Linked DNA regions of Homo sapiens: regions 1 and 2 are each linked to region 3. The links come from fine-mapping of genetic effects on gene expression. A gene starts in region 3. Each other region holds a variant in brackets. All regions are shown on one strand. Distances are from middle to middle.

Region 1 (10,855 bases), 99 kb after region 3:
CTCCAACTCCTGACCTCAAGTGATCCGCCAGCTTTGGCCACCTAAAGTGCTGGGATAACAGGTGTGAGCCACTGTGCCCAGCCAAAAACATAATTTCAGTATAACATGGTTAAGTGTTAAGCTTAAGAACCAATAGTATATAATGTAGAGTGAAGTCGGGGTTAGGAAAACCTTCCTGAAGGAGGTAACCTCTATGCTGAATTTTGAAGCAAGAATGAGTCAGATGAGGAAAGGTGGGAATGGTGTTTCAGGGAGAGAGAATAACACACTGCAAAGGCTCAGAAACCCAGAGTAACATCCTGCATCTAGGAATGGGCAGTTTGGTGGTACAAAGGCAGGGATGTGGAGATGAAGTTATAGAAGGTCAGCAGAAGGTGGTTATGGAGAGCAACACAAGTGAGGACCAGGACCTTCCTGGGAAGTGAAGGAGAGCTACGAAAGGGTTTACAAGAAAAGAGGCATTCAGATCTGTGTTTAGAGAGAAGGATGAGGTTGACCTGAAGGAGGGTCAAAGTGGATTAAAAGGGCCAGTAAGAGCTGGGCACAGTGGCTCATGCCTGTAATCCCAGCACTTTGGGAGGCCGAGGCGGGTGGATCATGAGGTCAGGAGATCGAGACCATCCTGGCTAACACAGTGAAACCCCGTCTCCACTAAAAATACAAAAAATTAGCCGGACGTGGTGGTGGGTGCCTGTAGTCTCAGCTACTCGGGAGGCTGAGGCAGGAGAATGGCGTGAATGCGGGAGGCAGAGGTTGCAGTGAGCAGACATCACGCCACTGCACTCTAGCCTGGGCGACAGAGCGAGACTTTGTCTCAAAAAAAAAAAAAAAAAAAAAAATTAAAAAAGGACCAGTAAGAGTGTGGTGTCCCATTGGCCAGGTGTGGCCATCCCAGCACCGGGAGTAATCCCAGCTCTTTGGGAGGCTGAGGTGGGGGGATAGCTTGAGTGCAGGAGTTTGAGACTAGCCTGGACAACACAGTGAGACCCTGTCCCTACAAGATTAAAAAATTAGCTGGGTAGGCCAGGCACGGCAGCTCACGCCTGTAATCCTAGCACTTTGGGAGGCTGAGGCAGGCGAATCACCTGAGGTAGGGAGTTTGAGACCAGCCTGACCAACATGGAGAAACCCTGTCTCTACTAAAAATACAAAAATTAGGCGGGGCGCGGTGGCTCATGCCTGTAATCCCAGCACTATGGGAGGCCGAGGTGGGCGGATCACAAGGTCAGGAGTTCGAGACCAGTCTGGCCAATATGGTAAAACCCCATCTCTACCAAAAAAATACAAAAATATTAGTCGGGCGTGGTGGCGCATGCCTGTAATCCCAGCTACTCAGGAGGCTGAGGCAGAATTACTTGGACCCAGGAGGCAGAGGTTGCAGCGAGCCACCAAGATCGCGCCACTGCACTCCAGCCTGGGTGACAGAGTGAGACTCAGTCTCAAAAAATATATAAAAAATACAAATACAAATACAAAAATTAGCCAGGCATTGTGGCAGGCGCCTGTAATCTCAGCTAATCTGGAGGCTGAGGCAGGAGAATTGTTTGAACCTGGGAGGCATAGGTTGCAGTGAGCCAAGATCATGCCACTGCATTCCAGCCTGGGCAACAGAGCAAGACTCCGTCTCAAAAAAAAAAAAAAAAATCAGCTGGGTATGATGGTATGCACCTGTAGTCCCAGTTACTTTGGAGGCCAAGGCAGGAGGACTGCTTGAGCCCAAGAGATCAAGGCTGCAGTGAGCGATAATCACACCACTACACTCCAGCCTGGGTGACAGAGAAAGACCCTGTTTCAAAAAGGAAAAAAAAAAAAAAAAAAAAGAGTGTAGTGCCCCAAGCAGTGGAGTGGAATCGAGAGCTATCAGCAGCAGAACTTCCATGTTGGGTGGAAGGAAGAATGAGGACAGCACCCCGTCCCTTGCACAGCTCAGCGGCAAGTGGTCAGGAGTGTAGCAAGAAGCACAGATTTGGGAAGCAGTGGAAAGAGTTCAGTTTTGGATGTGTGGGGTGCATGTAGACCATCCATGTGACATTTACTGTGGGTTACTAGATACAGAATCTGATGTCTGGGGAGGCTGAGACAGGAGAATCGCTTAAACCTGGGAGGCGGAGGTTGCAGTGAGCTGAGACTGTGCCACTGCACTCCAGCCTGGGCAAAAGAGCAAGACTCCATCTCAAAAAGAGAGAGAGAGGAAAAAATGAGGTTTATCTATGGGGCATAGTGGCTCATGCCTGTAATCCCAGCACTTTGGGAGGCCAAGGCGTGAGGACTACTTGAGTCCAGGAGTTCAAGACCAGCCTGGGCAACACAGAAAGACCCTATCTCTGCCAAACATTTTTTAAATTGAGTCAGACATGGTGGCATGTGCCTGTGATCCCAGCTACTTAGGAGGCTAGGGTGGGAGGATCTGCTTCAGTCCAAGAGGTTGAGGTTGCAGTGAGCGGTGATGGTACCACTATATTCCAGCCTGGGAGACAGAAATCCTGTCTGAAAAACAAAGCAAAACCAAACCAAACCAAAAAAAAATATTGTTTATTTTTCTTCACATAAGAGGAAAAGATTCCTCCACAAGGCTCTTCAGGATTTGCAGCTGTTCTCACCCAAATGCACAGGAAGTTCCACATGGCAACTAGGAAATAATGTTAAACAAAGGCATTTAGAACCAAGGTTCCTTTTCGCAGAGGCCACAGGATAGAACTACGGACTGTGGAATTTTGCAGACTTATTTCTTCTTTCAGGGAAAACACAACACCTCATGCAGTGAAGGACTGAAGCTCCTCTTGGGCTGGTATTCCTGAGGCAGAACACAGGTCCCTCACCCCGATGCCCACGACCACTCAGTAACAACATCTACCACCATTCGGAGGCAAGACAAACTGCATGAGTAACCCAGCACAGCCACTCAGATGTCACTTCTTCCTGGTGAAGAAGCAGAACCCTAGATTCACAAAATAAACAGTCATCTACAGGCACATGTACTGGGTATTTTTGTTTAAATTTTTGTTTAAATGAGGACCTAGTCTGGTCCTCAGGGAAAAACCTAAGGTTTATAAAAGAAAAGGCCTGGCTGGGCGCAGTGGCTCAGGCCTGTAATCCCAGCACTTTGGGAGGCTGAGGTGGGCGGATCACAAGGTCAAGAGTTTGAGACCAGCCTGACCAACATGGGTGAAACCCCGTCTCTACTAAAAATACAAAAATTAGCCCCGGACGTGATGGCACGCGCCTGTAATCCCAGCTGCTCAGGAGGCTGAGGTAGGAGAATCGCTTGAACCAGGGAGGCTGCAGTGAGCCGAGATCGCACCACTGTACTCCAGCCTGGGTGAGAGATCGAGACTGTCTCAAAAAAACAAAAAACAAAAGGTCTAACTTTTCGATTCATTTTTATTTCTTTTTTTTTTTTTGAGATGGAGTCTCGCTTTATCACCTAAGTTGGCGTGCAGTGGCACGATCTCAGCTCACTGCAACCTCCACTTCCCAGGTTCAAACAATTCTCGTGCCTCAGCCTCCCAAGTAGCTGGGACTACAGGCATGTGCCACCATGCTTGGTTAATTTTTGTATTTTTAGTAGAGACAGGGTTACAACACATTGGCCAGACTGGTCTTAAACTCCTGGCCTCAAGTGATCCGCCCACCTCCGCCTCCTAAAGTGTTGGAATTACAGGTGTGAGCCACTGCACCCGGCCTCACTTTTCACTTTAAACAAATAAAACCTACAGGGATCAAAGGTAAGTCAGCATCAGGGCGCAGTGGTTTACACTGTGATCCTAGCACTCTGGGAGGCCAAGGTGGGAGGATTACTTGAGCCCTGGAGTCTGAGACCAGCCAGGGCAATGTAGTGAGACCTCCATCTCTACAAAAAATTAGTCAGGCGTGGTGGCATGCACCTGTAGTCCCAGATACTCAGGAAGCTGAGGTGGAGGATAGCTTGAGCCAGGGAAGTCGAGGCTGCAGTGTGCTGTGTTTGTGCTATGGCACTCCAGCCTGGGCAACAGAGCAAGACCATGTCTCCAAAAAAAAAAAAAAAAATAGGCTGGGCATGGTGGCTCACGCCTGTAATCCTAGCACTTTGGGAGGCCAAGGCAGGTGGATTGCCTGAGCTCAGGAGTTTGAGCCAGCCTGGGCAACACGGTGAAACCCCGTCTCTACTAAAATACAAAAAAAATTAGCCAGGCGTGGTGGCATGAGCCTGCAGTCGCAGCTACTCAGGAGGCTGAGGCAGGAGAATTGCTTGAACCCAGGAGGCGGAGGTTGCAGTGAGCTGAGATCGCGCCACTGCACTCCAGCCTGGGCGATAGAGCGAAACTCCGTCTCTTAAAGAAAGAAAGAAAACAAAATAAAGTCAGTCGGCAATAAGAGAGTCAATGATTTTCCCTCTGATCTTCCTTCTGTCTTCCTGAGACATAGTTTCTCTCACATTGATTCCAATCAGAAACTCTGTAAAGATAGGCTGATGCGGGTACTCCACCATCCCAACTACAGATTGAAACTGGAGGATATTAGACCAAATTGGCCAAGAGAGGGGAAAAAAAAAAGAAAGTAGAGAAGAGAGGGTGCTGGCTGAGAGGTGGGGACAATGGGCAACAGCCCCCAGGTGATCACAGCTGCTCCACAGTCCCATCACATCTGTTAAACTCCCTCTCCACACTGTGGTCAGGTGAAAATGCAGACTCTATAACACGGGAGGTGGCTGGTAAAGCTCCTAGGAAGAAGAGCAGAGCCTTTTCCTGTTCCCAGCATCTCTTGTGTGTGCCCCTAGCCCAGAGATCACGGTAGGTGTAGGGATGGGCAAGGATGAGTAAGGAAGCTTCAGGAAGAGACTTCCCAGGAGTGTCACAGTATGTCATCTTGCAGAAAGTACCCAACTCTCTAGAGTCTGCCTCCAAAACTTAAACTCCCAGCCTGGTCCAAAGCACTCTTCAAAGAAGGCACGCACATTGGACAGAGTGTGGCAATGGGTATGAGCATTCAGCATTATCGTCCTCACTGACAATCTACAGAAATGACAGTCCAGGAGAGGTAAAGAGACTCGTCCAAAGCCACTCAGACGGTGGTGACCAAATATCCTGGACCCAAATATCCTAGTTCCCCATCTGGGGCTCCTTCTATCACTCCGGAAAGACTCCAGCAGTGCTGGGCCTCATCCAGTCAAGGCCTTGATCCTTCCCCATGCCACTGAGTTGGTGAACCCACAAAGCTTTCCTGAGGATCTTTCCTGAAGGGTCTGCTTTAGAAACCTCCATTCCAACTATAATCTGAGTCACACTGCTCACTGCTCTACTCCAGACTGCCTTTGATCACTACAGCTGTCAGACCCTTGAGGGAAGGGGCCATTCTCAGGTTTCCAGAACTCCCTTGGTACTTATCAAATTGCTGAACTCAGAGCAAATGAAATGTGGTCTGGCCGGGCGCAGTGGCTCACGCCTATAATCACAGCATTTTGGGAGGCCAAGGCAGGTGGATCACCTGAGGTAAGGAGTACAAGATCAGCCTGGCCAACATGGTGAAACCCATCTCTACTAAAAATACAAAAAAATTTCCTGGGCATGGTAGTGGGCACCTGTAATCCCAGCTACTCAGAAGCTGAGGCAGGAGAATC[A/G]TTTGACCCTGGGAAGCAGAGGTTGCAGTAGGCTGAGATCATGCCACTGCACTCCAGCCTAAGCGACAGGGCAGCACTCCGTCTCAAGAAAATAAAAAGAAAGAAAAAGAAAAACAGGCAGGGCACAGTGGCTCATGCCTGGAATCCTAGCACTTTGGGAGGCCGAGGCAGGTGGATCACTTGAGGTCATGAGTTTGAAACCACCTGTCCAACATGGTGAAACCCCATCTCTACTAAAAATACAAAAAAATTAGCCAAGTGTGGTGGTGGACACCTGGAATCCCAGCTACTTGGGAGGCTGAGGCTGGAAAATCGCTTGAACCTGAGAGGCAGAGGTTGCAGTGAGCCGAGATCACGCCACTGCACTCCAGCCTGGGCAACAGAGCAGGACTCCATCTCAAAAAAATAAATAAATAAATAAAAGAAATGTGGGCTGGCACAGTGGCTCATGCCTGTAATCCCGGCATTTTGGGAGGCCAAGGCGGGCCGATCACGAGGACAGGAGATTGAGACCATCCTGGCTAACATGGTGAAACCCGGTCTCTACTAAAAATACAAAAAATTAGCCCGGTGTGGTGGCAGGCGCCTGTAGTCCCAGCTACTCAGGAGGCTGAGGCAGGAGAATGGCGTGAACCCGGGAGAAGGAGCTTGCAGTGAGCCGAGATTGCGCCACTGCACTCCAGCCTGGGCCATAGAGCGAGACTCGTCTCCAAAAAAAAAAAAAAAAAAAAAATGTGGTCTGGCTCTTGGATTTCTATTTGCTGCAAGTCAACAATTCTAGAACCTTAGAAATGTTGAAGAGGCAAGATCGGTGGTTAAACCATAGCCACACTCTTTGGACACCCTGTAAATATCCTCAACAATGAAGGAAGTCTGTTTGAGTTTTACAGATTCTTATCTGAATGCCAAAGTAAGTTTGTTCACAAGCTGCCAAACCTAGCCCCATTTCTGGGGAAAGCTAGGGGTCCCGGGGCAGGGAGCAAGGATGAATCCTGAAACAATTTCCTATCCATAGAGGCAGGGTCTGTGAATGTCTTCCAGGCAAGGAACCATAGGAACCTTGCCCTCTCCAAGCAAAGCTTTATAACCTGTCACCTGCAAATATCTCTATATTCTACTGACATGTTTTGAAAAACTGTCTACCGGCTGGGCGCAGCGGCTCACACCTGTAATCCCAGCACTTTGGGAGGCTGAGGCAGGCGGATCACGAGGTCAGGAGTTCAAGACCAGCCTGGCCAAGATGGTGAAACCCTGTCTCTACTCAAAATACAAAAATTAGTTGGGTGTGGTGGCACATGCCTGTAATCCCAGCTACTCAGGAGGCTGAGGCAGGGAACTGCTTGAACCCGGAAGGCAGAGGTTGCAGTGAGCTGAGATCGCGCCACTGCACTCCAGCCTGGGCAACAGAGCGAGACTCCATCTCCAAAAAAAAAAAAAAAGAAAGAAAGAAAAAGAAAGAAAAACTGTCTACTAAAATGAAGTAGGTAGTAATTTCTCAATAATTACAGAAATAAGGCTGGACGCAGTGGCACACAACTATAATCCCAACACTCTGGGGGCCAGGGCAGGAGGATCACTTGAGGCCAAGAGTTTGAAACCAGGCTGGGCAACATAACAAGACCTTGTCTCTACAAAAAAAAAAAAGTTTTTTCTTTTTTTTGAGACAGGGTCTCACTCTGTCACCCAGGCTGGAGCGCAGTGGCGCAATCTCGGCTCGCTGCAGCCTCCTCCTCCCAGGTTCAAGCGGTTCTCGTGCCTCAGCCCCCGAGTACCTAGGATGCCTGGCTAATCTTTGTATTTTCAGTAGAGACAGGGTTTCACCATGTTGCCCAGGCTTGTTCTCGAACTCTTGAGCCCAAGTGATCTGCCTGTCTTGGCCTCTCTACAAAAAATGTTTAAAAAATTAGCTGGGTGTGGCTGGGCGCGGTGGCTTACGCCTGTAATCCCAGCACTTTGGGAGTCTGAGCCAGGTGGATCATGAGGTCAAGAGTTCAAGACCAGCCTGGCCAACACAGTGAAACCCCGTCTCTACTAAAAAATACAAAAAAAATTAGCCGGGCGTGGTAGCGTGCACCTGTAGTCCCAGCTACTCGGGAGGCTGAGGCAGGAGAATGGCATGAACCCGGAAGGCAGAGCTTGCAATGAGCCAAGATGGCGCCACTACACTCCAGCCTGGGCAACAAAGCAAGACTCCGTCTCAAAAAAACAAAATTAGCTGGGTGTGATGCTGTGTGCCTGTAGTCCCAGCCACTCAGGAGGCTGAGGTGGGAGAATCACTTGAGCACGGGAAGGCAAGGTTGCAGTGAGCTATGATTATGCCACTGCACTCCAGCCTGGGCAACAGAGTGAGACCTCGCCATCATCAGAAATACAGACCCTGGCAATGTACCTGGGGTTCTCCTTCCAAAATCCCAACGTTCAACCCAGAAATATTTACTGAATTCCTGCTGTGGGTCAGGAACTCTGCCAGAGATTGCGACAAACAAAAAGAAGGCGGCCATAGTCTCTAATCTTAAGGAACTTACAGCCTGGATGGCTCCACACCAAGAGTCCCTTGATACATGACTCTTAGGATGCCCTGAGAGGCCATTTCAAGGCTGGCAGCTTGGAAAGAAAACTTTCTCCCAGCAAATGAAAACATCACATGTTTCCACCTTAGCATCACATCAGACACCATGGCAACAGAGGGCTGTACCAAGAATTAGCTCAGTGATGACCTAGCCAACACAAACCGGCTTAATGCTCCTTGAGTAAGATTCCTGGAAGGAAAGGGAGTTCAAATAAATAAGTCTCTCTCCAGCTCTCAACAAGCAGAACTGCTTCCCTTCTTCCAGAGCTGTACTTTTTCTCAAAAATTTTTCCCCATGCCAAGATACACAGAGAGAATGATAGAATGATACTATTGTATAACACCCGGGAGTCAGTGGAGACAGCTGTTCTCAGCTATCCTGAAGCTTAAGGGTCGATACTTTGGCACACCTATAGCCCATTCACATCATACAGCTGAGAAGCTGTGAAGAGGACCTAAGTTGCCCATATTACACACTCACACTTCCAAAGTAAAACAGAAGGCCAAACCAAAGTCTCACTCATTTAACTATGAACTTGTGATTATGATAGAGAACTCCAGCACCTACTTCTGTAGGGGCATTCTGTTCTAGATGCCAACCAGATGCCTGAGGTGAAGTGCAACTGGAGCTCAGTGTCAGATGCAAACAGGTTTCCTGAAGGCTGCACTTTTTCTAGCTCATTTATGCAACTTAACAAGCACAAAACTACAATTAGACCTAGACAATATGCTTATTCAGCAAACCCACCCTCTAGTGAATCAGCATTCCAAATCTCTTCTAGGGGTATGGCCAACTGAATCGACCCTGATTTAGAGGCACCATATTGCGGGAGGCTGAGGCAGGAGAATCGCTTGAACCCGGGAGGCAGAGGTTGCGGTGAGCCAAGATTGAGCCATTGCACTCCAGCCTGGGCAACAAGAGCAAAACTCCGTCTCAAAAAAAAAAAAAAAAAAAAAAAAGAAGCACACTATTGTCAGTTTTCCCCGATGACCAGAAATGACCTTGAGGAAATCACACAATACAAAGCAGCTTCCTACACACAACTAACCCTGAAGAACAAACACGCTTATTAAGACAAGACCTTCTAGCCGGTTGTGGTGGCTCATGCTTGTAATCCCAGCACTTTGGGAGTCCGAGGTGAGTGGATCACCTGAGGTCAGGAGTTTGAGACCAGCCTGAGCAATACGGTGAAACCTCGTCTCTACTAAAAATACAAAAATTAGCCAGGTGTGGTGGCAGGCATCTGTAGTCCCAGCTACTGAGGAGGCTGAGACAGGAGAATTGCTTGAACCTGGGAGGCGGAGGTTGTAGTGAGCCGAGCTCACGCCATTGCACTCCAGCCTGGCGACAGAGCGAGACATCATCTCAAAAAAAAAAAGAAAAGAAAAAAGAAGACAAGACCTTCTTTTGACAAGGGAAACTCTGGGAAGAGGAGCCATTAGTAATAAAAGTGGCTTCCATTAACTGAGTGCCAACTTTGCTAAGGATCTTATATGTACCATCTCACTCCTCTCTACAAGCACATGTAGTAGGCACGATGATTCCTATTTTGGAATAAGGAAATTAGGACTTAGAGAACCTCAAGATTTCAGAAAAGCCAGAAACTGAATCCAGGTCTTTCTGACACCAAAGCCCATGCTTCTAGGCATGAGACCACAACAGGAGTCCACAAGGCAAGGCCTTCTCACTGGACAAAGGAGACAACAGTTTTCTTAGGCAATGACAAAGATCTTCAATGAGGAAGCACAGTAAAGTTACCTGGGAAGTTTTCTCAAAATACAGATACCTGGCCAGACATGGTGGCTCACGCCTGTAATCCCAGCACTTTGGGAGGCTGAGACGGGTGGATCACGAGGTCAAGAGTTCAAGACCAGCCTGGCCAACAGGATGAAATCCCGTCTCTACTAAGAATACAAAAATTAGCTGGGCGTGGTGATGCGTGATTGTAATCCCAGCTACTCGGGAGGCTGAGGCAGGAGAATCGCTTGAACCTGGGAGGCGGAGGTTGCAGTGAGCCGAGATCGCACCACTGCACTCCAGCCTGGGTGTCAGAGCAAGACTCCATCTCAGAAAAAAAAAAAAAATACAGATTCCTACCCCAGATCTTCTTCATCAAAATCTCAAAGAGTGGGTCAGGTGTGGTGGCTCTTGCCTGTAACCCTAAAACTTCGGGAGGCCAAGGTGGGAGGACTGCTTGAGCCCAGGAGTTCGACACCAGCCTCGGCAACATGGCGAGACCTCGTCTCTGTTTAAACAAAAAAAAAAAAATCTCAGCCAGGCATAGTGGCTTATGCCTGCAACCCTAGCACTTTGGGAGGCCGAGGCAGGTGGATCACCTGAGGTCAGGAGTTCGAGACCAGCCTGGCCAACACGGTGAAACACCATCTCTACTAAAAATACAAAATTAGCTGGGCATAGTGGTGCTTGCCTGTAACCCCAGCTACTCTGGGGGCTGAGGCAGGAGAATCACTTGAACCTGGGGGGTAGAGGTTGCAGTGAGCCAAGATCGCGCCATTGCTCCAGCCTGGGCAAAAAGAGCAAAACTCCGTCTCAAAAAAAAAAAAAAAAAAAAACTAACTCAGACAGTAAGGCTCTTGATTTTGTATCACAAAATTATCCCAGGAGATTTTGGACTATCCAGGATTAAGAGGCTGTACTACCTACCACACACATACGCTGGCATTTGCTG
Region 2 (5,000 bases), 220 kb before region 3:
ACATAGAATAGTAAAGAAGTAGGGACTTGAAGCCAAAGGACTCTGCAAAACAGTGAAGATTAATCAATACTGGTGAGCTAATAACTACTAAGTGATAAGCTTTTTTTTTTTTTTTTTTTTAAACTGGTGCATGCCACCGTGTCCGGCTAATTTTTTGTATTTTTAGTAGAGACGGGGTTTCACCATGTTAGCCAGGACGGTCTCGATCTCCTGTCCTCATGATCCACCCACCTCGGCCTCCTGAAGTGCTGGGATTACAGGCATGAGCCCCCGCGCCTGGCCAGTGATAAGCAATTTTTTAAGGTATAGATTAATAAAGTACTTTGTCAGATTTTTTTTTTTTTTTTTTTTTGAGATGGAGTCTTGCTCTGTCACCGAGGCTAGAGTGCAGCGGCACAATCTTGGCTCACTGCAACCTCCGTCTCCCGGGTTCAAGTGGTTCTCCTGCCTCAGCCTCCCAAGTAGCTAGGATTACAGGTGCCCGCCATCGTGCCCGGCTAATTTTTGTATTTTTAGTAGAGACAGGGTTTCACCATCTTGGCCAGGCTGGTCTTGAACTCCTGACCTCATGATCCACCTGCCTCAGCCTCCCAAAGTGCTGGGATTACAGGTGTGAGCCACCACGCCTGGTGTTTTGTTTTTTAAGAGACAGGGTCTCGCTCTGTTACCCAGACCGGAGTGCAGTGGTGCAATCATGGTTCAAACTTGAACTCCTGGGCTCAAGCCATTCTCCCACCTTAGCCTCCAAAGTATTTGGTTGGTATAAAAGTAATTGTGGTTTTTGGCATTACTTCTAATGGCAAGAACCGTGATTACTTCTGCACCAACCTAATAACTGGGACTATAGGCACACACTACCACACCTGGCTGATTTTAAAATTTTTTTTGTAGAGATAGGGTCTTGCTATGTTGCCAAAGCTGATCTCTAACTCCTGGCCTCAAGCAATCCTCCCACAGTGCTGGGATTACAGGCATGAGCCATTGTGCCTGACCTGTCAGATGATATTTAAGTAAATTTGCCAGGCTAGGATTTATTAACCATTCATAATGGATGCTGCAAAGAATAATGGAATATAAACTAAACTTACTCCTGACTTTCTAAAAATAACTCACTGGAATAGTTTCTTTGTAAATGAAAAGTTGTGAGGATGCTTTGCATAAGAATATATTTTTCTCTTCAGTTTCCCCATCAGTACAATGGAGAAGAGAAATACCTCTTATACAGTACATAGAGAGGGAATATAAAGTGGGCATAAGAACGCAAGGCAGCCCTTGGCACCTGTTATTTCAAGTCACAAAAAATATAAGGAAGAGTGTTTTCTGTGCAGGTTCTGGGGGTTCTACGAGCTAGTCTTGTGCTAAGAGGGAGCACAAGGATGGCCCACAAATCTCTGTGCGTGACTTCTAACATGCCTCCTCTTCATATTAGATTATCATCAGGCATCATCATTATGTCTCCCAAATAGGCTATGAACTCCCAAAAGGCAAGAACCTTGCCACTGAGGAAACACCCATTCCTGATGACTAAATAAATGGACCCTAATTCAATACAATCACTTGGAAGCTATTTAGAACAAGCACAGTGAAAGTTCATTAGGTGGTAGGTAGGAAGGGGACCAGAGTATGTTAAGACTAATGCATGTTATTTGATTTTCACAGTGTGTATTTTAGGCAGGCGTTACAGCAGTGGCAAAAAGCCAAATATATAAGCAAGCACCTGGCTCACAATCAAATCATCTTTTCTTATCATTTATCACTTCCAAAGGCAATAATTTCAAAGATGTTCCAGGCTGCTATGAAAAACACTTTTAACAATTTGTATTTCACTGTTCAAGTTTTAAAACTACAAACGGATTTTAAATGGTGTTTTATCATCAAAAACCACATGACGTGTTTTCTCTCTTTTTTTTCTTTTTTCTATTTTTTTTTTTTTTTTTTTTTTTTTTTTTTTTTTTTTGGCAATGGGGTCTCACTCTGTTGCCCAGGCTGGAATGCAGGTGGCACAATCACGGCTCACTGCAGCCTTGATCTTCCCACCTAAGCCTCCTGAGTAGCTGGGCCTACAGGCATGTGCTACTACGCCTATGCCTTTCTAATTTTTGGATTTTTTTTTTCTTTCTGCAGAGATGAGGTCTCACCATGTTGCCCAAGCTAGTCTCAAACTCCTGGACTCAAGTGATCCTCCT[G/A]CCTCAGCCTCCTAAAGTACTAGGATTACAGGCGTGACCCACTGCACCCAGCCGAGGTGTTGTTCTTCTATATCTTATAAGAAGTCAATGCTTCTATTTTCCTGACGATGAGGGTCCATATCTGGCACTGTCCATCCACTTACCAAGTACACTTATATAAGGATGAAACCATCATTTTCTAAAGTAGATATGTGGTATTGATTATAATGGAAGCCTGCTCAATGCTGTGTTATTTCTGCTCCCCCTTGCCAAAGCTCTGCTGTTCCTTTGCCTGGTGTGCCTCACCTTACTTAGCTGAAGGAACCTGGAAAGTTCCTGACAGTTTAGGATTTTAAGACTATGTTAAAGTCAGAAGATTTTCCACAAAGTAGTGCTCAAGCGGACTATACTCAACTATACATTATACTACAGGATTCACTTATTTATGAATTCACCAGCAGTCAGGAGATTTAAGTTCCAACGGGGCAGACTTTCTCTATCTTGTTTTCCCCTGAATCCCTAGTGCTTACATATATTGAGTACTAAATAAAATTACTTGCCAACTGAATCTTTAAAACAATTTGGGGACTTGGAACAATGACAACAAAAATCATGCTCAAGTAATTGCTACAGGTGAGCACTGAATATAAATTTTAGGCTAGGGAGTCAGAACTGCAACAAAGTGCTTTCACAGACCTTTAGCAATAACTTGAGCCGAGTGTTAATCATGCAAGTCCTCTGCTTTCCTTCTCCCTCACTTCTCCCTCGGGCTGGGGGCTCTGGGTTCAGGCTCTCACCTCTAGATTCCTCAGATATCTTCCTGCTGGGACTGGCCAAAACGTAGGTCTCAACTGAAGCAAGTCAAAATTATTACTGGTAAACAAATCTATGATGTAATGTAAATGTAAGTCATTAGCAATCTTGATAAGCACAATTTTTAAGTTGTTAAAAATACTAATGCTTGCAATTTAATTTTTCAAGTCATCTTGAATGGATATATGCATGAATTTGCTAATTTATTTAAACTGTAATCCAGGCCAGGTGCCATGGCTCATGCCTGTTATCCCAACACTAGGGGAAGCCAAGGCAGGAAGATTGTTTGAGGCCAGGAGTTCAAGAAGAGCCTGGCCAACAAACAAAGTGACAATTTTTTTTTTTTTTCTGAGACAGAGTCTCCCTCTGTCTCCCAGGCTGGAGTGCGGTGGCGCAATCTCAGCTCACTGCAAGCTCCGCCTCCCAAGTTCACGCCATTCTCTTGTCTCAGCCTCCCGAGTAGCTGGGACTATAGGCGCCCGCCACAATGCCTGGCTATTTTTTTTTTTTTGTATTTTTTTTTTTAGTAGAGACGGGGTTTCACCGTGTTAGCCAGGATGGTGTCGATCTCCTGACCTCGTGATCCACCTGCCTCGACCTCCCAAAGTGCCGGGATTACAGGCGTGAGCCACCCTGCCCGGCCGGGACAATTTGTCTCTTAAAAAAAAAAAAAAGGAAAAATAAACTCTAGTCCACTAAGTATGTGAGGTGGTTTCCTATTTTTTTCACCAATTTAAGATAAGAGTATAAGGAATTGTTTATGCCCCTAATGTACAATTTTATCATTTTTCTTCCCCCCAATTTTTTTGAGATAGAGTCTTACTCTGTCACCCAGGCTAGAGTGCAGTGGTGTGGTCTTGGCTCACTGCAACTGCTGCCTCCCACCCAGCTAATTTTTGTATTTTTGGTAGAAACGAGGTTTCTGCCATGTTGGCCAGGTTGGTCTCAAACTCCTGACCTCACATGATCTGGCCACCTCGGCCTCTCAAAATGCTGGGATTACAGGCGTGAGTCACCGCACCCAGCCCTCATTTTCCTCCCTTTAAAGAGCAAAGTGAATTAAAAGCCTAGAACAAGAGTGAACAGTCCTCAATAAGGGTGCTAACAGGTTATGTAGGTCACAGGATCTGGCACACTTTTGGCAGCCACCATCTGTGACTTCCACTACCCCAACACCTGAATTTGCCTGTGCCACCACAACAAAAGTAGAGTCACAGCTATCAATAATGTTTGCTGTAAGAGAAAAAGTTCGTATTCAAGAAATGTTCAAATTGGCAGTCCACTGGAATGCTATTTCTACACACAAGAATGAGGTGCTTGAGTACCAATAGGACTCTTATTTAGAGCTATTTCCCATGCTTAAGAATTCAAAGTTAGAACTGACAAGTATATAGTATGGAACCTCACAACCAGGTAGAGAGGGGCAGGGTAACCCAGTGTGCTCCCTCTTTGAAGGGAGTAGATACACACTGCCATATACACAAAATCCCAACGGGCCTTTCTAATTTGCAATTTTGTAAAGGATTTCGGGGTATTTTTAGACTCCATTTATATGTTATTTCCTCTTGAAGCTGCAATGAACATTCACCAAAGTTTGGTCATGTTATTCTTTTCCTGAACCTGAAGATTAAAGGTATTCATCCCCTGGGTAAACAATTTTATGAAGGTGTTATTATTATTATTATTACTATTATTATTTTAGGAGACAGTGTCTTAGTCTGCCACCCAGGCTGGAGTGAAGTGGTGTGATCATAGCTCACTACAGCCGTGAACTCCTAGGCTCAAGCGATCCTCCCGCTTCAGAGCCCTGCCCCAAGTAGCTGGGACTACAGGCATGTGCCACCAAGACCAGCTAATTTATTTTTTTATTTTTATTTATTTTTTTTGAGACAGAGTCTTGCTCTGTCACCTAGGCTGGAGTGCAGTGGCATGATCTCAGCTCACCGCAACCTCCGCCTCCCGGGTTCAAGCAATTCTCCTGCCCCAGCCTCCCAAGTAGCTGGGATTACAGGTACCTGCCAC
Region 3 (10,855 bases):
GAGACTCTGTCTCAAAAAAAAAAAAAAAAAAAAAGATTTGCAGTCAGGTAGGTCAATGGGAAAGACCCATACCCCAACGAGATCCATGTAGACATCTCCCTCACTGACTTCATCCCAGAATATTGTCACCTGCAAACTGGGGATCTCCTGACTGATATCACCTTAAACGTGACAGATAGGATCCATGCCAAAAAAGCTTTTGGAGGAAAGCTGAACTTCTATGATCTTTTTTTTTTTTTTTTTGAGATGGAATTTCACTATTGTTGCCCAGGCTGGAATGCAATGGCACAATCTCAGCTCACTGCAACCTCCTCCTCCCTAGGTTTAAGCAATTCTCCTGCCTCAGCCTCCCTAGTAGCTGGGATTACAGGCGTGCGCCACCACGCCCGGCTAATTTTGTATTTTTAGTAGAGGTGAGGTTTCTCCATGTTGGTCAGGCTGATCTCGAACTCCCAACCTCAGGTGATCTGCCTGCCTGCCTTGGCCTCCCAAAGTGCTGGGATTATAGGCGTGAGACACAGTGCCCAGCCATGAACTTCTATGATCTTTGAGCAGAGGGGGTCAAGTTGCAAGTCATGGCCAATTTCAGGAATTATAATTTCAGGAAGAATAATTTATTCATATTAATAACAAACTGCGTTGGGGAAACATAATTGGAATTCAGAGGAATCCTGGGAAAAACCAAGAAGGATGAGCTGAGCTTCATTCCCTATGAGATCACACTGCTGTGGCCTTGCTTGTATATGTTACCTCATCTTCACTTTGGCCTCAAAGACAAGGAAATAAGGTATGGTCAGAGATACTTGGACTTGATCCTGAATGAATGAGGCAGAAATTTATCATCTGCTGTAAGATCATCACATGTATAATAAGTTTCTTAGGCCAGGTGCAGTGGCTCACGCCTGTAATCCCAGCACTTTGGGAGGCCAAGGCAGGCAGATTGCCTGAGGTCAGGAGTTCGAGACCAGTCTGGACGACATGGTAAAACCCCACCTCTACTAAAAATACAAAAATTAGATGGGCGTGGTGGCAGGTGCCTATAATCCTAGCTACTCAGGAGGCTGAAGCAGAATTACTTGAACCCAGGAGGTGGAGGTTGCAGTAAGCCAAGATTGCACCACTATACTCCAGCCTGAGCAACAAGAAAACTCCATCTCAAAAAAAAAAAAAAAGTTTCTTGGATGAGCTGGGATTCCTAGAGCTTGAAACTCCCATGAATGAACGTCATCCCAGGGGAGCTATGACCAAGCCTTTCATCACTTATCACAACAAGCTGCACATGAACTACTCTAGAACTCTACCATAAGATGCTAGTGGTTGGTGGCATTGACCAGGTTTATGAAATTGCATTCCAGTTCTGGAATGAAGGAATTGATTTGACGTAAAATCCTGAGTTCAGCACCCCTGAGTTCTACATGGCCTAGACTATCACAATCTCACGGAAATCACGGGGAAGATGGTTCCAGGGATGGTGAAGCATAATACAGGTAGTTACAAGGTCACCTACTACCCAGATGTCCCAGAGGGATAAGCCTGCAATATTGACTTCACCCTACCCTTCCGGAGAATCAGCATGATAGAAGAGCTTGAGAAAGCCCTGGGGGTGAAGCTGCCAGAAAATAACCTATTTGAAACTGAAGCAATTGGCAAAATTCTTGATAATATCTGCGTGCAAATGCTATTGCGTGCCCTCCACCTAGGACCACAGCCAGGCTCCTTGACAAGCTTGTTGGGGGAGTTCCTGGAAGTGATTTGCAACAATTCTACATTCATCTGTGATCACCCCCAGATAATGAGCCCTTTGGCTAAATGGCACTACTCAAAAGGTCTGACCCAGCGCTTTAAGCTATTTGTCATAAAGAAAGCGATAAGCAATGCCTACACTGATCTAAATGATCCTATGCAGCAGTGGCAGCTTTTTGAAGAACAGGCTAAGGCCGCAGGTGATGATGAGGCCCTGTCCGTAGATGAAAACTTTGTTGCCGCCATGGAATACAGGCTGTCCCCCACAACTGCCTGGGGCATGGTTATTGACCGAGTCACCATGTTTCTCACAGATTCCACCAGCAACTCGGAAGGCTGAGGCAGGAGGATTGCCTGAGCCCAGGAGTTTGAAGTTTCAGTGAACAACACAGTGAGACCCTGTCTCTAAAAGGAAATTTTTTTTTTTTGAGACAGAGTTTCGCTCTTGTTGCCCAGGCTGGAGTGCAGTGGCACGATCTCAGCTCACTGCAACCTCCGCCTCCCGGGTTCAAGCGATTCTCCTGCTTCAGCCTCCCAAGCAGCTGGGATTACAGGTGTGCACTGCCACACCTGGCTAATTTTTGTATTTTTTATAAAGACGGGGCTTCATCATGTTGCCCAGGCTGCTCTCGAACTCCTGAGCTCAAGCAATTCACCTGCCTTGGTCTCCCAAAGTGCTAGGATTACAGGCGTGAGCCACCATACCCAACCTTTTAAAATTTTTTTCTTTTCTTTTCTTTATTCCTTCCTTCCTTCCTTCTTTTCTCTTTTTTTAATCTTACAAAAAATGTTTCGGAAAAGGTATTTTATTTTTAAGACAGGGTCTTGCTCTTTCCCAGAGGCTGGAATGCAGTGGAGCGACCATAGCTCACTGTGGCCTCTAACTTCTGGGCTCAAGCAATTCTCCCACCTCAGCCTCCTGAGTAGCTGAGACTACAGACATGTGCCACCATGACCAGCTACTTTTTAAAAAATTTTTTTGTAGAGAAGGGGTCTCACCATGTTTCCCAGGCTGGTCTTGAACTCCTGGCCTCAAGCAATCCTCATGCCTTGGCCTCCCAAAGTGCTAGGATTACAGGCATGAGCCACCATCTCTTGTCCCCTGAGATACTTTTAATGGCCTTGCTGGATCCAGCTCCTGCACCCCAGGGCCCTCCTGCCTCCTCCCCACCCTCGGCTGATGGCACTACCTCAAGGACATGGGATAGCATGCAGCCTTCTGTCCCAGATCCTCTGTACTGTCTGAAATCAGGCAGAACCCAGCTGCAAGAGGAACTCAATGGTACACATGGGACCCAAGTCATCAATCGTCTCCATCAGAAAGCAACCCAGGGCCAGGCACAGTGGCTCAGGCCTGTAATCCCAGCACTTTGGGAGTCCAAGGCGGGTGGATCACCTGAGGCCGGGAGTTCAAGGCCAATGTAGTGAAATCCCGTCTCTACTAAAAATACAAAAATTTGCTGGACATGGTGGTGCATGCCTGTAGCCCCAGCTACTAGGGAGGCTGAGGTTGGAGAATTGCTTGAACCTGGGAGGCGGAGGTTGCAGTGAGCCAAAGTGGCACCACTGCACTCCAGCCTGGGCAACAGAGCAAGATCCTGTCTCAAAAAAAAAAAAAAAAAGAAAAGAAAAAAGGCCGGGCGCAGTGGCTCATGCCTGTAATCCCAGCACTTTCAGAGGCCAAGGCTGGTGGATCACCCGAGGTCAGGAGTTCGAGACAATCCAGCCTCATCAACATGGTGAAACCCCATCTCTACTAAAAAAAATACAAAAATTAGCCAGCCTGGTGGTGCATGCCTGTAATCCCACGTACTTGGGAGGCTGAGGCAGGAGAATCGCTTGAACCTGGAAGGTGGAGGTTGCAGTGAGCCGAGATCGTGCCCTCGCACTCCAAAAAAAAAAAAAAAAAGCACCCCAGGAATGTTGGACAGAGAGGCTGGCGGGGTAGGGGTTGGTTGGTAAGGCTTGAGCAGAAGGTTCTAGATGCATTCAGGAGATAAAGATGCATTTGGGGTTATTGCACTTCTCCTAGAAACATAAACATTGACTTCCTTTTGTGGAAGAAAAATGTTATGTTAGCTATTTGACGTTTCAGGAAGGGTGGCTTCAGCTTGGTGATTGGAGGATGTTTGTCTACAGTGGCCAGGCTGCTTTCTGGCTTGGAAGACTATTGTTTCTTGGGAATTGTCTGTATCAGACATCATGGGAGCAGATCCAGGGCGACATCAAAGGGAAGCATGAGTCTCCAGGACCAGAGGGGCTTGGATGCAGATGATCATCATCTGGGCACTGCTGGATACTGAGTAAGCCCCAGCTGCACCCCACCTCTGCGCTCTGAGCATGGGAGGCAGCCTGTGCAGCTATAACTCAGCCTGACTTTTTCCTTCCCTGCATACTCTTGAAATACACTGGAGATGAGTAGGGGCGAGTGAGCTGCACACCAGAATAAGTTTGGTCCTTGGAGCAAACTGTTTCTACTGCTGCCTCCTCTGCAGGTCTTGATTTATGCAAACACTGCATAGAAGAGGAAGTAGAGGGAAAAGCTGTTCACCCACCTACTCCTTCCTGGTAGCAAGATTTCCTATCCTGGCCTTGCCTCAACAGCCCTACCAATTGGAGGCTGAGGTTGTGCCAAGGCTCTATGGGGGGACGTAGCATCACTGAGGTGGCCAGATTTTGGAGGACAGGAAAGTTTGTGCTATTTGCTGAGACTGGAGAGGCTGGTGAGAGCAGACTCTCCATGAGTTGAAAGCCAAAGAAAGAAATTCGGTAGATTTCTGCAATGAGAAGCCACGGAAGAACTTCAGGCAGGAGGATGCATTGGATCTTGTTTTCGTTTTGTTAGAGATGGGGTCTCACTCTGTCGCCCAGGCTAGGGAGCAGTGGTGCCATCGTCTCTCACTGCAACCTTAAACTCCTGGGCTCAGGCGAACCTCCCACCTCAGCCTCGTAAGTACCTGGAACCACAGGCATGCACCACTTTTTTTTTTCCTTTTTCTTAGAGTTCTCATTATGTTGCCTAGACTGGTCTCAAACCTCCGGCTTCAAGAGATCCTCTCACCTCGACCTTCAAATTACTGGGATTACAGGCATGAGCCACCATGTCCTACCAGACTTTGTTAAAAGAGGAACAGGCCAGGCATCGTGGGCTCACATGAACACTCATGCCCCAGAAGTAAACAAGTGTTAGCCAACCAGGAGGCCTATCCTCCCCCTAACCTCACCCAAAGCCATCTCTGTGCCCTCCCCCTTGCAGGGGAAACAGCACACACTAGTGAAATCTTGTCTTAGTGTGTCCGGAATTGGTGGGTTCTTGGTCTCACTGAGTTCTAGAATGAAGCTGCAGACCCTCGCAGTGAGTGTTACAGCTCTTAAGGTAGCGCGTCTGGAGTTTGTTTCTTTTGATGTTTGGATGTTTGGAGTTTCTTCCTTCTGGTGGGTTTGTGGTCTTGTTGGCTCAGGAGTGAAGCTGCAGACCTTCGTGGTGAGTGTTACAGCTTTTAAGGCAGTGCGTCTGGAGTCGTTTGTTCCTCCCAGTGGGCTTGTGGTCTCGCTGGCTTCAGGAGTGAAGCTGCAGACCTTCGCGGTGAGTGTTAAAGCTCATAAAAGCAGCATGGACCCAAAGAGTGAACAGTAGCAAGATTTACTGCAAAGAGCAAAAGAACAAAGCTTCCACAGTGTGGAAGGGGACCAGAACAGGTAGCCACTGCGGGCTCAGGCAGCCTGCTTTTATTCTCTTATCTGGCCCCACCCACATCCTGCTGATTGGTAGAGCCGAGTGGTCTGTTTTGACAGGGTGCTGATTGGTGCGTTTACAATCCCTGAGCTAGACACAAAGGTTCTCCACGTCGCCACCAGATTAGCTAAATACAGAGTGTCGACACAAAGGTTCTCCAAGGCCCCACCAGAGCAGCTAGATACAGAGTGTCAGTTGGTGCATTCACAAACTCTGAGCTAGACACAGGGTGCTGATTGGTGTGTTTACAAACCTTGAGCTAGATACTGAGTGCCGACTGGTGTATTTACAATCCTGAGCTAGACGTAAAGATTGTCCACGTCCCCACCAGACTCAGGAGCACAACTGGCTTCACCCAGTGGATCCCGCACCAGGGATGCAGGTGGAGCTGCCTGCCAGTCCTGCGCCATGCGCCCGCACTCCTCAGCCCTGTGGTGGTCGATGGGACTGGGCGCTGTGGAGCAGGGGGCGGCGCTCACCGGGGAGGCTCCGGCCGCACAGGAGCCCATGGAGGGGGTGGGAGGCTCAGGCATGGAGGGCTGCAGGTCCCGAGCCCTGCCCCCCCGGGAAGGCAGCTAAGGCCCGGTGAGAAGTCGAGCGCAGCGCCTGTGAGCTGGCACTGCTGGGGGACCCAGTACATCCTCCGCAGCCACTGGCCCGGGTGCCAAGCCCCTCATTGCCCGGGGCCAGCAGGGCCCGCGGGCCGCTCCGAGTGCGGGCCCGCCAAGCCCACGCCCACCCGAAACTCCAGCTGGCCCGCAAGCGCCGCTCGCAGCCCCGGTTCCCACTCGCGCCTCTCCCTCCACACCTCCCTGCAAGCTGAGGGAGCTGGCTCTGGCCTTGGCCAGCCCAGAAAGGGGCTCCTACAGTGCAGCGGTGGGCTGAAGAGCTCTTCAAGTGCCGCCAAAGTGGGAGCCCAGGCAGAGGAGGCCCCGAGAGCGAGCGAGGGCTGTGAGGACTGGCAGCACGCTGTCACCTCTCATTAGGAGCTGCCAATATCAGTGGCACAGACCTGAGCACAGGGATAATTTGGGGTCAGAGGCTACAGTCTAAGTTAGCTAGATGCTGGCAGTGGGCAGAGTGGAAACAAGGCAGAGGCGGGGAAACTCAGGGCCTGACTCCAGAGCCGACCTTAAGTGTCACCGCTGATTCCTCCTTACTGTCTCCCACCAACCCTGCTTCAAAGCATCTCCAAATCCTGGGTTCAACTTCCAAACATGTCCCAGGAATGTCTCCTTCCTGTTCCCACTGCTTCTCCCCCTTACAGGCCCCTTCATTCCTTACCCCTCCTGATCTCCTGGCCTCCAGCCCATTCCCTACAGAAAAGCCATACCTATTTCTTCCATTTTAAAAAATGTGAGCTGGGCGCGGTGGCTCATGCCTGTAATCCTAGCACTTTGGGAGGCCAAGGTGAGTGGATCACGAGGTCGGGAGATCAAGACCATCCTGGCTAACACGGTGAAACCCCGTCTCTACTAAAAATACAAAAAATTAGCCGGGCGTGTTGGCGGGCACCTATAGTCCCAGCTACTCGGGAGGCTGCGGCAGGAGAATGGCCTGAACCCGGGAGGCGGAGCTTGCAGTGAGCCGAGATTGTGCCACTGCACTCCAGCCTGGGCGACAGAGCGAGATTCCATCTCAAAATAAATAAACAAATAAATATAAAAATAAAAAATTTGGCCAAGGGTCGGGGGTGGCTCATGCCTGTAATCCCAGCACTTTGGGAGGTCAAGGCAGGCGGATCACCTGAGGTCAGGAGTTCGAGACCAGCCTGGCCAACATGGCAAAACCCCATCTCTACTAAAAATACAAAAATTAGCCGGGAGTGGTGGCATGCGCCCGTAATCTCAGCTACTCGGGAGGCTGAGGCAGGAGAATCACTTGAACCCAGGAGGCAGAGATTGCAGTGAGCCAAGATTGCACCATTGCACTCCAGCCTGGGCAACAAGAATGAAACTCTGTCTCAGAAAATAATAATAATAATAATAATAATAATAATAATAATAATAATAATATCATTATCTATTTTTTTACAGACAGGGTCTTGCCCTGTCACCCAGGCTGGAATGCTATGGTGTTATCATAATGCTCACTGCAACTACAAGTGTGGGTGTGTCTGTGATTCGCTTTGTATGGTCCCCTCAAGGCCACATTTGAGGACTGAAGTTGCATATCATGGAAAATTGTGTTGTCTGGCTTATCTCCTACAGAGACAGTGCTCACTTTTACTGGCTCAACTCAGCCTGCCTCTGCTGAGCTAGCAGGTACCCCAAGTCCCAGGAGGTCAGACATTCGGGCTCTGGAGAGAAGCTTAAAAAAAAATGCAAAAAGTTGGCCGAGTGCGGTCGCTCACACCTATAATCCCAGCGCTTTGGGAGGCCGTGGTGGGTGGATTACCTGAGGTCAGGAGTTCAAGACCAGCCTGAACAAAATGGAGAAACCCCATCTCTACTAAAAAATACAAAATTAGCCAGGTGTGGTGGCACATGCCTGTAATTCCAGTGACTTGGGAGGCTGAGGCAGGAGAATCACTTGAACCCAGGAGGTGGAGGTTGCAGTGAGCCAAGATCACATCATTGCCCGCCAAGATCACATCATTGCCCTCCAGCCTGGGCAACAGGAGCAAAACTTTGTCTCAAAAAAAAAAGAAAAAAAATTCAAAAAGTTGAATTCTCCTCACCTACTCTGTCAGCTGTTATTTATTTATTCCTACCTACCCCTTCCTTATTTTTACATTTTTCAAACTGACAAATAATAATTGACCAGCCTGGGCAATATAGTGAGACCCTGTCTCTAAAAAAAAAAAAAAAAATAGCCGAGTGTGGTGGCGAGTACCTGTAGTCCCAGACTCGGGAGGCTGAAGTGGGAGGATTGATTGAACCTGAGAGGTTAAGGCTGCAGTGAGCTGAGACTGCACCACTGCAGTCCAGCCTGGGTGACAGAGCAAGACCTTATCTCAAAAACAATAATAATAATAATTTGCACATATTCATGGGGTACATAGTGATTTTTGTTGTTGTTGTTGTTGTTGTTGTTGTTGTTTGGCGGGGGGAGACAGGGTCTCGCTCTGTCATCCAGGCTGAAGTTCAGTGGCCCAATCTCGGCTCACTGCAACCTCTGCCTCCTGGGTTGAAACGATTCTCCCAACTCAGCCTCCCAGGTATTTGGGACTACAGGCGCGCACCACCAAGCCCGGCTAATGTTTGTATTTTTAATAGAGATGGGGTTTCCCCATGTTGGCCAAGCTGGTCTCGAACTCCTGACCTCAGATGATCCACCCACCTCGGCCTCCCAAAGTGCTGGGATCACGGGTGTGAGTCACTGCGCCCCACCCATAGTGATGTTTCAATACATATAACACATAATGATCAGGTTCAGTTCCTCATTCTTTATGCCCCTTACCTCTTGGGGCTCTCAGAATAAACTGTTTATCCCCAAAACCACATCTTTGACCTGGAGACCAGCAAATCCAAGAGCTTCTCCTCCCTCTCACTATTCCAGTGGGTGTGGGGAGCTGCTGACCAGCAGTGGATGATGGAGAGAAGGAGGGAAGCCTGTGTTGGGGTACCCAAACCACCCAGATCTGGGACACGCCCTACTGTTCTCTGAAGCAGAGCCCAAGAGGACTCACCATCTGCAGTGGGCCTCCCTATAGAACCCTCCAGCAGGGCTGGGCACAGTGGCTCACATCTATACTCCCAGCACTTTGGGAGGCCAAGGTGAGATCATCACTTGAAGCCAGAAGTTTGAGACCAGCCTGGGCAAGAAGGCAAGACAGTCTTTAATTAAAAAAATAAATAAAAAATAAAAAAAAAGCCCAGGTGCGGTAGCTCACTCCAGTAATCCCAGCATTTTGGGAGGCTGAGGCAGGCAGATTGCTTGAGACCAGGAGTTCGAGACCAGCCTGGGCAACATGGCAAAACCCCATCTCTACTAAACAACAAAATTTAGCCGGGCGTGGTGGCGCATGCCTGTAGTCCCAGCTACTCGGGAAGTTAAGGCACAAGAATCGCTTGAACCCAGGAGGTGGAGATTGCAGTGAGCCAAGATTGTGCCACTACCCTCTAGCCTGGGCAACAAAGTGAGACTCTGTCTCAAAACAAACAAAAAAAGACCCCCTTCGGCAGCAGTAGACGTGACAGTTAACCCACCTCGAGCACTCGGCCATCGATCTGCCTTCCTCCTGGACAGCAGACACTGGGCAACATCAAGTGTGCAGTCCCTAAAATACATCAAAGCTGGGATCACTTCCCCTCCTGGGTAGCTTGGGACCTCCAGTCCCTTTGGAAGAGTTGGTTCATTTTCTTTTTAGGAGGCCTTCTTGAATCTCTAGTCGTCGTCAGGCTTAGGTCACACTACCCATGCACTGATCAGCCCTGCCACGTGGGGGAGGCTCCAAAAAATGAAGCGGTTCCAGGGGTGCCAAGGTTCAGAGCAGAGTCTTGAGAGCCTGAGGGGCAGGAGGAGGCAAAGGTCTCTGAGGACGAAGGGGTTTGGCCACAGTCCCGGAAGATCTCAGGTCGTGGGGCTTCTGTGAGCGGGCACATCCCCTGTGCCTGTGTGATTGTGAGCTTGTGTGCTTGTGTGGTTGGGGGTCCTTCCTGGAGGAGGCATCTAGGTTGAGGGCCCCAGGCCGGGAATGGGGTGGGGCCTGTCGTCAAGGAAGGGACTCAGCCCTGGAGGTTTCTGTGAGAGCTCAAGCCACAGGAGCCACAAGATAAGAGGAGTGTGGCTGCAGAACCCAGGTGGCAGGGCTTTCCTCAGGCCCCTTACTCCTGACCTGGACGAGGCCGGGGCTTCCTCAAGGAGGTAGGAGGTATCCTGGCCAGCAGATCAGCCAGAAGCTCTAGGAGGAAGGTGCTGCGGCCGGGGACTCTGCTGCCCTAGACAAGACTTCATTTCCTTCCATGCAGATGGCTGTGTGGGTTCCTGCTCTGTTGAGTGAATGTTCCCTGGCAGTGGCCAGATGCTTGCTGCGCTCTCATCCCTCCACTGGGGTCCTGGGGAGGTGTGGCAGCTCCTTAGGAAGGAGCTCTTTCCTAAGGCTGATTGGAGAATGTGCGGTCGGGGCGGGGGGCGGAGGAGTGCTCCTGACAGGTCCTAGTAGCTGGGAGATTCCCCAGAGTATAGGCTTGAGGGCCTAAGTTACGGGAGAGAGAAGGTCAGGGCCAGGGGGCCCCTTCCTGAATCCAGTCCACAGGGTTAACCCCTCATTTCCAGAGCCTATCTTCTCCCCCACACCCACCCACACAACCCAGCACCAGGAAATCCAGAGCCCAGAGCACTGTGGTCACAGGGACACATGTGGCCCTGGGTGTGGCCGGGACACGTTGCAGGCGGTTGGGGACATGACGTGGTCTGCAGATCTCCCAGGGC

What was found. PIP is the estimated chance that this variant, and not a neighbour inherited with it, causes the effect.
Region 1: its variant is the best candidate, but not a certain one, in a credible set for the expression of DPEP2 in whole blood (INTERVAL, PIP 0.71).
Region 2: its variant is the best candidate, but not a certain one, in a credible set for the expression of DPEP2 in whole blood (INTERVAL, PIP 0.50).

What each region holds. Positions count from the first base shown.
Region 1 is chr16:67,894,806-67,905,660 of GRCh38, reverse strand. All of the region lies in intron 1 of PSKH1 (protein serine kinase H1), which reads right to left. Among named protein-coding and RNA genes, the nearest start is that of PSKH1, 7.0 kb to the right of the region's middle. The variant A/G (reference allele first, on the strand shown) is at 5,597.
Region 2 is chr16:68,219,247-68,224,246 of GRCh38, reverse strand. All of the region lies in intron 9 of NFATC3 (nuclear factor of activated T cells 3), which reads right to left. Among named protein-coding and RNA genes, the nearest start is that of MIR6773, 12 kb to the left of the region's middle. The variant G/A (reference allele first, on the strand shown) is at 2,187.
Region 3 is chr16:67,993,639-68,004,493 of GRCh38, reverse strand. DPEP2 (dipeptidase 2) reads left to right here and starts at 5,010. Exons shown (of 11, transcript NM_022355.4): 1 at 5,010-5,119. It also overlaps the pseudogene KARS1P3. RefSeq lists an enhancer at 6,071-6,587.